Linked DNA regions of Homo sapiens: all the other regions are linked to region 3. Evidence: fine-mapped expression QTL. A gene starts in region 3. Each other region holds a variant in brackets. All regions are shown on one strand. Distances are from middle to middle.

What was found. PIP is the estimated chance that this variant, and not a neighbour inherited with it, causes the effect.
Region 1: its variant is the best candidate, but not a certain one, in a credible set for the expression of ADGRL1 in B cells (Fairfax 2012, PIP 0.57).
Region 2: its variant is the best candidate, but not a certain one, in a credible set for the expression of ADGRL1 in whole blood (INTERVAL, PIP 0.70).

What each region holds. Positions count from the first base shown.
Region 1 is chr19:14,736,071-14,740,070 of GRCh38, forward strand. It overlaps ADGRE2 (adhesion G protein-coupled receptor E2), which reads right to left. Exons shown (of 21, transcript NM_013447.4): 21 at 1-174. The coding sequence ends at 166. Among named protein-coding and RNA genes, the nearest start is that of ADGRE2, 40 kb to the right of the region's middle. The variant T/C (reference allele first, on the strand shown) is at 1,871.
Region 2 is chr19:14,224,321-14,228,667 of GRCh38, forward strand. No RefSeq gene overlaps it. Among named protein-coding and RNA genes, the nearest start is that of ADGRL1, 20 kb to the left of the region's middle. The variant GT/G (reference allele first, on the strand shown) is at 2,452.
Region 3 is chr19:14,204,416-14,208,762 of GRCh38, forward strand. It overlaps ADGRL1 (adhesion G protein-coupled receptor L1), which reads right to left and starts at 1,754. Exons shown (of 23, transcript NM_014921.5): 1 at 1,570-1,754. RefSeq lists silencers at 2,368-2,427, 2,448-2,547.

The DNA.
Region 1 (4,000 bases), 530 kb after region 3:
AGGAATTGAATGCCTAGCACGCCTTCCATAACATCCTTCATATTGCTGACATGGTGAATTTCTTGAAACACACAGAACAAAGTCTTTTCTTTCCCCTCTAGATGGCTCAAAGATTGTTCAGATTTTCCACGGGCAAAGAGGGAAGATCTTATTCAGAAGATTTTTCTAGTTAACCTGAAATATATATATATGTATGTATTTTGTTGTTGAGACAGAGTTTCACTCTTGTTGCCTGGGCTGGAGTGCAATGGCGCAGCCTCGACTCACTGTAACCCCCGCCTCCCAGGTTCAAGCAATTCTCCTGTCTCAGCCTCCAGAGTAGCCAGGATTAGAGGCATGTGCCACCACACCCGGCTAATTTTGTATTTTTAGTAGAGACAGGGTTTCACCACGTAGGCCAGGCTGGCCTTGAACTCCTGACCTCAGGTGATCTGCCTGCCTCAGCCTCCCAAAGTGCTGGGATTACAGGTGTGAGCCACTGAGCTGGCCTGAAATATATATATATTTCTAAATATATTTAGAAACATAGATATATTTAGAAGTATATAGATATTTAGAAATATATAGATATTTAGAAATACATAGATATTTCTAAATATATATATTTAGAAATATATAGATATTTAGAAATATATAGATATTTAGAAATATATAGATATTTAGAAATATAGATATTTAGAAATATATAGATATTTAGAAATATAGATATTTAGAAGTATAGATATTTAGAAATATATAGATATTTAGAAATATATAGATATTTAATATCTATATATTTAGAAATATATAGATATTTAATATCTATATATTTAGAAATATATATATTTAATATCTATATATTTAGAAATATATATATATTTAGAAATATATATGACTATAGAAAGAAAACCTATAATTTCCATTTTGAAAAAGAAATAAGAAATTAGTTAAATAAGTAGATTATAGCTGCTTGTGCCACAAAAATAAGTAACTATGTGAGATGATAGATATATTAATTTGCTTCACATATAGATAACCATTTTATTATCTATATGTATCCCATAACTTCATGGGTTAAACCTCAATTGTGTGTATACACAATAAAATTTATTAAAAAAAAGAAATTTAAGAAGTCTTTTTTTTTTTTTTCTTTTTAGAGACAGGGCCTTGCTCTGTCACCCAGTCTGGAGTGCAGTGGCACCATCTCTGCTCACTGCAACCTCCAACTCCCAGGTTCAAGTGATCCTCCTGCCTCAGCCTCCCGAGTAGCTGCAACTACAGGCATGTGCCACCACTCCTGTCTCATTTTTTAATTTTAATTTTTTGTAGAGATGGGGTCTCACTGTATAGCCCAAGCTGCTGTTGAACTTCTGGGCTCAAGTGATCCTCCCATCTCAACCTCCCAAAAATGCTGGAATTCTAGGTGTGAGCCACCATGCCTGGCCAAGAAGTCTTTAATCATAAGGTTTTCTTACCATATGTATTTGTCAGGGCAACATCAAAAGGCCATATCAGCTTTCATTTTGCTCCATCCTGTTCTTTCTCAGAAGCCCCATCTTTGTATGCCTCCTAAACCCCAAGTTACCAAAGTTAAGAGGAAGTAAATGTGTTGCAGTAAAGTATCTATCTGGGCCAGGTGTGGTGACTCACACCTGTAATCCCAGCACTTTGGGAGGCCGAGGCGGGCAGATCACTTGAGGTCAGGAGTTTGAGACCAGCCTGGCCAACATGGTGAAACCCTGTCTCTACTAGAATACAGTAGTAATAATAATAATCAATTAGCTGGGCTTGGTGGCAGGCGCCTGTAGTCCCAGCTACTCGGGAGGCTGAGGCAGGAGAATCGCTTGAATCTGGGAGGTGGGGGTCACAGTGAGCCAAGATGGTGCCACTG[T/C]ACTCCAGTCTGGGCGACAGAGTAAAACTCCCTCTCAAAAAAAAAAAAAAAAGTTGTATCTGAAGTAGGGTGATTATAGTTAACATTAATCTACCATACATTTCAAACTAGCTAGAAGAGAATAATTTGAATGTTATTAGTACAAAGAAAAGATAAGTATTTAAGGTGATAGATATCTTAGTTACCCTGATTTGCTTATATGAGTGTAGCAAATGATCACATGTACCTAGAAACTATGTACGTCTATTATGGATCAATTAAAAAACATTTAAAAAGATCTATCTGTTTCCAAATGTATGTCTTGACCTCGGAGCTCCAGGGTTTGTGTAATGTTGCTTTAAATGTGGAGTCATAAAAGAAGCCAGGTGGGAAATTAATGAAATGTTAGAAGTGTTATCTATTGTTAACCACATAAGATTTAAAGGAAAAAGCACTGAATTCCTTTTTTTTCCCCTGAGACAGGGGTCTTGCTTTGTTGCCCAGGCTGGAGTGCAGTGATGGGATCATAGCTCACTGGATACTTGACCTCCTGGGCTCAAGCAATACTCCAATCTTAGCCTCCCGGTAGCTGGGACTACAGGCATGCACCACCATGCCTGGCTAATTTTTATACTTTTTGTAGAAACGGAATTTTGCCATGTTACCCAGGCTGGTCTTGAAGTCCTGAGCTAAAGTGATCTGCCTGCCTCGGCCTCCCAAAGTGCTGGGATTACAAGCGTGAGCCACTGCGCCCAGCCTGAATTCCTTTTTTCCATATCTTTTCCATCTCCAATATGAGTTATTTATTCCTAGGTTCATAGGAAACTCAGTGTAATTTCTATGGTTCGAGATGGTCAGCTTCACTTGCTTATATAGTTAGTATTTAATGCATAATTAATATGTGCTCAAGAGATTAATAAATATTGTGCTTCAGGAGATTATTCAGTAGTGATCACAAGACATTTTGTTTTTATGAAACAAGACTGCAGAAAGCCATGGCAGAGACTGCAGAATAAGAGCAAGACACACATTTTCTTTTCTTTTCTTTTCTTTTTTTTTTTTTTTTTGAGACATAGTCTCACTCTGTCACCCAGGCTGGAGTGCAGTGGCTCGATCTTGGCTTTACTGCAACCTCTGCCTCCTGGGTTCGAGTGATTCTTGTGCCTCAGCCTCCCAAGTAGCTGGAATTACAAGCATCCACCACCATGCCTGGCTAGTTTTTGTGTTTTTAGTAGAGGTGGGGTCTTGCCATGTTGGCCAGGCTGGTCTCGAACTCCTGACCTCAAGTGCTCTGCCCGCCTTGGCCTCCCAAAGTGTTGGGATTACAGGTGTGAGCCAGCGTGTCCGGCCAAGGCACATACATTTTCAAACACCAGAGATAACAAGTTTTAGGAAACAGTAGAAGATAAAATGACATTAAGTAATGCAATGGATTTTCTTGGTCCTTTGTCAGTAGCTGGTAGAAATATCTGATCACACACCTTAAATTTCAGAAGCCTTTGTTGGCTATCTGATGACCTAACTCTAATTCCCTACACAAAAGTACATGTTTCCTTTCTTCAATGTGTATATATCATTTCTAGTGGCTGTGTGGGGTGAAAGGGTGATAAATATTTATGCAAATATCTACAATATGAGGCAGGTTTTGATGATTCTACAATAGGTAAACCCAAACTATATGGGTATGAGAGACAGAATAATGACCCCCCAAAGAGGTTCACATCCCTAATCCCCAGAACCTGTAAATGCTACCTGACATGGAGAAAGAGACTTTGTAGATACGGTTATGAAAAGGATCTTGAGATGGGAAAATTGCCCTGGATTGTCTTGGTGAACCCAATGTAATCATCAAGGTCTTTATAAAGTATGAAGGCTGTAGGAGAGTCAAAGACAGGGATGGACTGGGCGCAGTGGCTCACGTCTGTAATCCCAGCACTTTGGGAGGCCAAGGCGGGCAGATGGCTTGAGGCCAGGAGTTCAAGACTAGCCTGGCCAACATGGTGAAACCCTGTCTCTACTAAAAATACAAAAATTAGCCAGGCGTGGTGGCGGGTGCCTGTAATCCTAGCTACTCGGGAGGCTGAGGCACGAGAATCACTTGAACCCTGGAGGCAGAGTTTGCAGTGAGCCCAGATGGTGTCACTGCACTCC
Region 2 (4,347 bases), 20 kb after region 3:
ATTACAGGCGTGTGCCACTGTGCCTGGCCTATTTATTTATTTATTTATTTATCCAATGTTTGTTTTAAGTTCAAGGGGGCACATGTCCAAGTTTCTTATTTGGGTAAATTGTGTTTTGCAGGAGTTTGGTATACAGATAATCTTGTCACCCAGGTAATCACCATAACACCCAACAGGTAGTTTTTCAATCCTGACCCTCCTTTTACCTTCCACCCTCAAATAGACACCAGTGTCTGTTGTTCCCATCTTTTTTTTTTTTTTTTTTGAGATGGAGTCTTGCTCCGTTGCCCAGGGTAGAGTGCACTGGCATAATTTCGGCTGACTGCAACCTCTGCCTTCCGGGTTCAAGAGATTCTCTTGCCTCACCCTCCCTAGTAGCTGAGATTATAGGTGTGTGCCAGCACGCCTGGCTAGTTTTTGTATTTTTAGTGGAAATGGGGTTTCACCATGTTGGCCAGGCTGGTCTCGAACTCCTGACCTCAAGTGATCCACCTGCCTCAGCCTCCCAAAGTGCTGGGATTACAGGCGTGAGCCGCTGTGCCTGGCCTGTTGTTCTCACCTTTGTGTCCATGTGTACTCAGTGTTTAACTACCACTTATAAGTGAAAACGTGTGGTATTTGGTTTTCTGTTCCTGCATTAGTTGACTTAGGAGAATGGCCTCCAGCTCCATCCATATTGCTGCAAAGGATATAATCTCATTCTTTTTTTTTTTTTTTTTTTTTTTGAGACAATCTCATTCTGTCACCCAGGCTGAAGTGCAGTGTCGTGACCTCGGCTCACTGCAACCTCCGCCTCCCAGGTTCAAGCAATTCTCCTGCCTCAGCCCCTCAAGTAGCTGGGACTACAGGCACCTGCCACCATACCCTGCTAATTTTTGTATTTTTTTGTAGAGACGGGGTTTTGCCATGTTAACCAGGCTGGTCTCGAACTCCTGGCCTCAAGTGATCCACCCACCTTGGCCTCCGAAAATGCTGGGATTACAGCCATGAGCCACCATGCCCGGCCTCATTCTTTTTTAATGGCTGCATAGTATTCCATGGTGCATATGTACCACATTTTCTTTATCCAATCCTCCATTGACGGGCACCTAGGCTGATTCCAAGTCTTTGCTATTGTGAATAGTGCTGCAATGAACATACATGTGCATGTGTTTTTATAGTAGAACAATTTATATTCCTTTGAGTATATACCCAGTAATGGGATTGCTGGGTCAAATAAAATAGAAGAATTTTAAATTGTTTGAGAAATCTCCAAACTGTCACACTCAATTATAAGGGCAATAATCTCACCCATGAGAATGGGGCCCTCCTGGCCTAATCACTTCCCAAGAACCCCAACTCTTCCAACATATGGATTTGGAAGGGACACAGACATTCAAACCATAGCAGTGACCTTATTTGGACAAAGCGTTTTTGCAGATGTAATTAAGTTAAGGATTTTGCAATGAGATCATCCTGGATTAGGGTGGCCCAAAATCCAATGATAAATGACCTTAGAAGAGAAGGGGGTTAGACACAGAGAAGAAGGCCAAGTGAAGACAGGCAGGGCTTTCAGCAGTACAGACACAAGCAAGGAACCATCAGAGGCTGGAAGAAAAAAGGACGAATCCTCACCTAGTGCCTTCGGAGGGATTGCAGCCCTGCACCACCCTGATTGCAACCTCTGGCCTCCGGAATGGTGAAATAATAAATTCTTGTTGTTTCCAGCCACCTAGTTTATGGTAATGTATTTCAGCAGCCCCAGGAAATGAACACAGGCCCTGATATCCAATTCCACAAGCACTTGATGAAGCGTCAGGAAGGGCCCGTGGTACAGTGGAGGGGGAGGGAAACTCGAAAATGGGGAGTGTTGAGAAACGGATGGACAGTGAGGTGGAGGACCAGAGAGGCTTTTTTTTCTTTTCTTCTTTTTTTTTTTTTTAGACAGGACCTCTCTTCGTCACCCAGGCTAGAATGCAGTGGCGCAGTCGACCTCCTGGGTTCAAGCGATCCTCCTGCCTCAGCCTCCCGAGTAGCTGGGACTACAGGCACATGCTATCATGCATGGCTAATTATTTATTTATTTTTTGTAGAGATGGGGTGTCACTGTGTTGCCCAGGCTAGTCTTGAGCTCCTGGCTTCAAGCCATCCTCCTGTCTTGGCCTCCCAAAGTGCTGAGATTACAGGCTTGAGCCACCATGCCCAGACTGGGGAACCTCTTTATAGCAGAGGTGATGACCCAGAACTGAGCTGGAGCATGCCACAAACCTACAGGGACAGCCAGTAGGTAATATAAATACGCCAAGCAGCCAAGATAAAAAGACTGACTGCACCAGCAACGGAACAGCTTCAGTGTCAGGGAGACAGTAAGGGGGGGTGGGACTATGGCAAATAATGATAAGAATGAGTAACATTTATCAGCACTTGCTAAGCCCGTTCCTTATATAGCATGAACTCATTTAATTCAGTTGT[GT/G]TTTTTTTTTTTTTTTGAGACAAGTCTTGCTGTGTCACCCAGGTTGGAGTGCAGTGGCACAATCTCGGTTCACTGCAACCTCCGTCTCCCAGGTTCAAGCAATTCTCCTGCCTCAGCTTCCCGAGTAGCTGGGATTACAAGCACGTGCCACCACACCTGGCTAATTTTTGCATTTTTAGTAGAGACAAGGTTTTGCCATGTTGGCCAGGCTGGTCTCGAACTCCTGACCTCAGGTGATCTGCCCATCTAGGCCTCCCAAAGTGCTGGGATTACAGGCATGAGCCACCACGCCCAGACAAGATTTCATCTTTAGAGGAAGTCAGGCATCCAGATTTTTATGCAAAAATCACCTGAGGTCTGGCACTGGTGGCTCAGGCCTGTAATCCCAGCACTTTGGGAGGCTGAGGGGGGCGAATCACTTGAGTTCAAGAGCTCAAGGCCGCCTGACCAACATGGTGAAACCCTGCCTCTACTAAAAATAGAAAAAAACTAGCTGGGCCTGGTGGCCTTTGCCTGTAATCCCAGCTACTTGGGAGGCTGAGGCAGGAGAATCGCTTGAACCTAGGAGGCAGAGGTTGCAGTGAGCAGAGATCACACCACTGCACTACAGCCTGGGCGACACAGCGAGACGCCATCTCAAAAACAAAAACAACAACAACAACAATGAAAAAGCAGCCTGTATTTAAAAGCTAGCAAGTCATGGGCCGGGCGCGGTGGCTCACGCCTGTAATCCCAGCACTTTGGGAGGCCGAGGTGGGCAGATCACAAGGTCAGAAGATCGAGACCATCCTGGCTAACACGGTGAAACCCCGTCTCTACTAAAAATACAAAAAATTAGCCGGGCGTGGTGGGGGGCGCCTGTAGTCCCAGCTACTCGGGAGGCTGAGGCAGGAGAATGGCGTGAACCCGCAAGGCAGAGCTTGCAGTGAGCCAAGATCGCGCCACTGCACTCCAGCCTGGGTGACAGAGTGGGACTCCATCTCAAAAATAAATAAATAAATAAATAAATAAATAAATAAATAAATAAATAAATAAAAGCTAGCAAGTCATTACAAAATGTTTTTAAAGCCTGCATGGACCAAGCCAATTACATCTGTGGGCTGGATTCAGCTCTGGGGCGGACACAGAGGGAGGGGCGGGGCATTTAGTGAAGGCGATGCAAAGCATCATGGGTGAGTTGGGGACCACATGGGCCAGGGGGTTTGACTAGGTGGTGCCTAGGCGGGTGCCAGCATGTTTGTCGGGGCTGGCGCGGTGGAGGGGGCGTGGTTTAAACTGAACAGGTGTTTTGGGTCTAGGTTGGAAAGGACCTTTGGAGCCACGATAACATTTTTCAATTTTGAAGAAGTCAGTGATAGCTTTTAAACAGCTGAATGACTCAGTCATGCCTGTCTGTCCCCATCCCCCAATCCCAACACCCAGAAAGCTGTGAATCAGGCTTTCTTTGGGGGTGGAGGGACAGTAGATCCATCCATGAAGGAAACAAACTAAACAGCCCCCGTCTTCCAGCGCGCTCACAGCCGCCGGGGAGAGGGGGAAGGTGTCCTTAGTAAGGTTAGGATAGGATGGCAGCCGTGATGGTGGGACCGTGGCAGAGGGTTAGTGGTTGTCTGCAGATATGGGAGCCACTGCTATGTGTTCAATGCACTAAGGATGCAACGACGAACAGGACAGACATGGCCCTGCCTTCAAGGAAAAAGACTGTGAAGGAGGAAGGAAATAAGGAGAGACGGTAATTCCAGGGGGTGATGAGAAAATGTAAAAATTAAAATAGCAGGATGGGGGATGGGGCTCAGATCGGCAGCCTACAGGCCCAGGAGACAGAGCGGGTGGGCAGGAGGATGGAGGATGGGGAGCGGGGGTCCTCAGTGGCTCACAAGCCACCGCTTGCTCCC
Region 3 (4,347 bases):
CCTGGAGAGCAGGTGGAGGGCACGGAGCTTTCAGGCTGTGAGCCAGGGTGAAGGAGTGGGGTCTGGGGTCAGGTTAGACTCATGCCAGCCCTTGGGGTGTTGGAGAGAGAAGCAGAAACCAATGGTCTGTCCCCAAACAGCATGGAGGTCAACGGCCCGGAATAGACATTCACCCTCAGGTGTGCCCCACTGGATCCGACCTCCTCTAAGCAGTGACTCCCTACCAGGATAAGGGAGCCGGGCAAGCAGAGAGGGGAAGAGAGAAAGACAGAGAGAGATAGAGAAAGACAGAGAGAGTGAGAGAGAGAGAGAGAGAGAGAGAGAGACAGACAGAGAGAGAGAGAGCGCGCGAGCCAGCCATCTTGGCAGCCATTTTGAACCCCTCCCCCTCCTGCCCCCAGGCACACATGTTGGGAAGTGGGATGTGGGAAGACAGACCCCAGCTCTGAGTCCGGTGGAAGCCAGGCGGAAGGGGGGGCCCTGCCTGGAACTGGGATACAGAAACACCCACGCAGCTGGCATGGCTGGGGGTGGATGGGGGTTGGAACAGGAAGAAAGGGTCCAGGCAGGTACAGTGAGGTGTTGGCCAGGGATGGGGCAGTGTGAGGACCCGGACTGGAAGTGTAGAGACAGGGGTGTGTGTAGCCAGCGGCTGTCTTCAGATGGGGGCCAGGGGTGCACTGGAGAGATACCTGGGAGGGCATTTTCTGGACACGGCTGGAGCAAACACAGCATCCCCCCACCCCACCACTTCAGGCCTGGACTCGGGTCCCAGGACCGTCAGATGGGAGGATGACAACCAAACCCTCGCAGCTCAATCCAATGCGCACCTGGGGTGGGGGTGGGGAGCTGTCCTCAAAGCACGAATAATCCGAGTGGATCAAACCTGCCGGCCTCCCGTGCTTTAACCCGGCACCACGGAGAGAAGGTGCTGCCCGGCTGCACCCCCTCCTCCTGACAGCGGCGCCCCCCGGACTGCGGCCGGCTGGACACCCAGACGGACCCCTCCCCATCCCCCGCGCCACTGCCTCCCAGAGAAAAACAACCCCCTCGCCCAGCATCCTGTGGTGCCAGCCCCCGACACGGCTCCTCTGGGGCGCGGGGCCGGCGCGCGGCGCGCACACGCACCCCCTCCGCTCACACCCAGACACCTACACAAACAGGGCGCCAAGCACCCGCGCGCACACGCACCGGGGACACGCAGGCACCGCCGCGCCGCTTCCCCACAAAGGCTGGCGCGCGCGCGGGCACACGCAGCCACGCGCGGGCACACTCGCGGTCCCCTCCCCCCGCCAGGCACCCTGCGGTAGCCCGTCCGCACCCCCGCGCCCCGGGCGCTCCGTGGGGGCCGCCCCTCCCAGGCCCCTCGCCAGTGGGGGTGAGGTGCGGGCTGCCCCCGACGCCCCTCCCGCTCAGGTGCGGTGCCCCGCGCGGCTCCCGTGTCCCCTCCCCCCTCGCGGCCAGGACAGGCCCCGGCCTCCCATCCTTCCCGCCTCCCCTCTTCCACGCGCCCCGCACACCTGGCCCAGGTGCGGCTTCGCCCCTCGCCCTGGGCCCGCAGACACTCACCTGTCCAGCGCCTCTCTGGGGTCGGCCCAGCGTGTCTCTCCTGCGGCTCGGCGAACCCGGGCCCCCCGCCCGGCACATCTCCCGGAGCCGGGGCTGGGGGGAAGCGGGTAGGAGGTGGCGGGACGAGGGCGGCCTCCGTGTCCCTTCCTTCCCCTGGCCCAGCACCGCCGCCGACCAAAAATTAGGAAAAAAAAAAAAAAAGAAAAGAAAAGAAAAAAAAGAGGCGGATTACACGGATCCAAAGGCGGCCCCCTCGCGGCGGCGGAGGCTCGGGACTGGGGGCGATCGGGTCTGCGCCCCTCCCGGGGAGGGAGGCGGTGGGGCGGGGGCGGCGTCAGAGCGCCGGGGGCTGGGGCGAGGCGGAGCGCCCCGAGGCGGCGCCGGCAGCGGCCCGCATCTCCCCCGCAGCTCCGCGGCCCCGACGGAGGCGGCACGTGTGCGCCCAGGCGACTTCCCAGCCCCCTCCGACGCCGGCGGTGGACGAGGGGTTAACGGGGCAGCCGGGGCGCCCCTGCAGGCCCCCGCCGCCCGGCGGCGCCGCTCCGGGGCCCGCGCGGCCCCATCAGCCGGGGCCTCCTCGGCAGACGGCGGGGCGGGGGCACCGCAGCGCCGACAGCTCCCGCGCCGACGGCTCGGGCTCCCCGCAGTGGCCGCGGGGAGCTCGGGTTGGGGGCGGGCGGCGCGGAGCTGGCGGAGGGGGGCGGCGCGGCTGGAGGCGGGTGCCGCGGCGTCGCGCCCCCGGTGCGGCCGGAGGGGGGGCGCCGGGCCGGGCCCGTGGGCACCGCAGGACGCGCGGACCGAGCCGGCGCCGGGCACCAGCAATGACAAGCCGCCTGCTCGCCCCGCTCCCCGGCGCACCCGCTCCGGGAGGGGGGCGGTGGGCGCGCGCAAAACCCGGCCCGGAGTCGCCGCCCGGGACTGGCCGCCGCAACCCGCTTGAGCGCCCCAGGAGCCGGCCCGAAAACCCGGGCTGGACTTTCCTTCCTTTCGCCTCCTCTCGCCTCCTCCCTGGAAAAGCAGGGAGAGGGAAAGCGACGTGCTGGAGCCCCGCGTTGGAGCGGGGAGTGGGGGAAGGGAGACAGGCGTAAGGAAGACCCGGAGCGGATTTTCCAGTGAAGTATAAGGAAAGGCGCCGAGCCCGGGGAAGGAGGGCGCAAATGGGGAGATCTGGAAGGGTTGTGCAAAACCCGAGTTGGATTAGATAAAGATGGGAGGAACGGTGTTGGAGCGGGGGGTTGGGGGGTAGATGCGACATGGCCAAATGCACCCGGGGCACGCAAATTTCGGGCCGGATTCTTTCTCGGGAGACGGAGTAATGCGTCAGGCCTAACGCAGTGGAAACAAGCAAGACCCGGCCCGGAACTCCCGGGACCTGGGTTCGCATGGTGGGGGGTTCTGGAAGGGGGATGCTTAGTGGCTGAGGCGACTTGGGCTGCCCTCATCTTCCTGGCAGCGACGTGCAAGGGGGACGGGCAAAAGGAGGACTGGACTCGGGTACGAAGGGATTTGGCGCGCTGGCTGCACCGGAGCGGACAGGTAAAAGCGGTTTCTGGATCCAGGGGCGCTGCGAAGGGAATGCGATGAGGCCGCTACCCTGGGAGACCAGACCTACAATAAAAGGCGAGGGAGGCACGCAAAGCCAGGACTGGAGCGCGGGACGGGATGAGACCCTCAGCAGAAGATCCTGGGCCACCGGGACAGGGGCTTGGAGCTGACCGGGCAGCAGGGGCGGAGGGAAGCGTTAGGGGGAGGTTTGTACCTGTAAACGCCTCAAAGTCTTGCTTTTGGGGAGGGGGTGCGAGGGGAAAAATTGAATTTTATGTTCTCTAAAAGAGTAAAAACCCGGCATGGATTTTCAACACCTAACAACTCCATTGCAGCTGGTGGACTCTAAGAAGTAGGGCAAGAAGCAGGCTTGGGTTCCCAGGCATCAGACCAAGTGAGGCGAGGGGCAGGTTTCGGGTTGAGGCTGCAGAGGGAGCCCCCGCACCCCCTCTCTGGGGTGGGGAAGGCTGTTGGACCCGGCTTGGCTCTCTGGAGAGCGAAAGTTATGACTGCCAAGACCTATAGCTGGGGCTATAAAACTGGGCCCCAAGCCAAAAATAGGCACTTCGGCAGAACAGGCAACTTTGTGCAGGGTGGGGGCTGGAGGGAAATGGAAGTGGGAAGAATCCTGGAGTGGAGGGAACAGGGGGGAGGGGGGGAGTCCCTGAAGCGGGGCTGCTGGCTCCATTTTATGAAAGATGGGAAGACTGATGGCTGGGGAGGGCTTGGAATCCTCAGGGAAGGGAATCCATTCAAGTGAGGCCCAAATGTTAAAGCAGACAGCTCAGAGTTCAAAGTTGGGCTGCATCTTAGCAGCAGGGCAGACAAACCCTGATCTGAGTTTTAGAGGAGGGGGACGGGCTGAGGATGGGGATGGGGGAAACCCCCATTCCCTATATGTCCAGGGAAGAGAGTGCATTGCTAACCATGCGCTTTGCAGAATGAATGAGGAAAGGGAAAAGGGTTCCTGAGTAGGAGTGGTAAATCCACAAAACTTGAGGCATATCTGGATGGGAAAAATGAGTATCTAAGAAAGCCTGAATTGAATATCTGCACGGGAATTAACTTGGCCTCTAAGAATCCCTTCCTAGAAGCACGTCCCTGTGGCTAAACTGGAGGAAGTGCAGGGACACCAGACTTCCAGGCTGCCCGGGTGACCACGCACCACTGCTGTGGCAGCCTGTCACCCTCCACCGCCTTCTACGGACAGCTGTCTCTTCACGACGGGGAAGG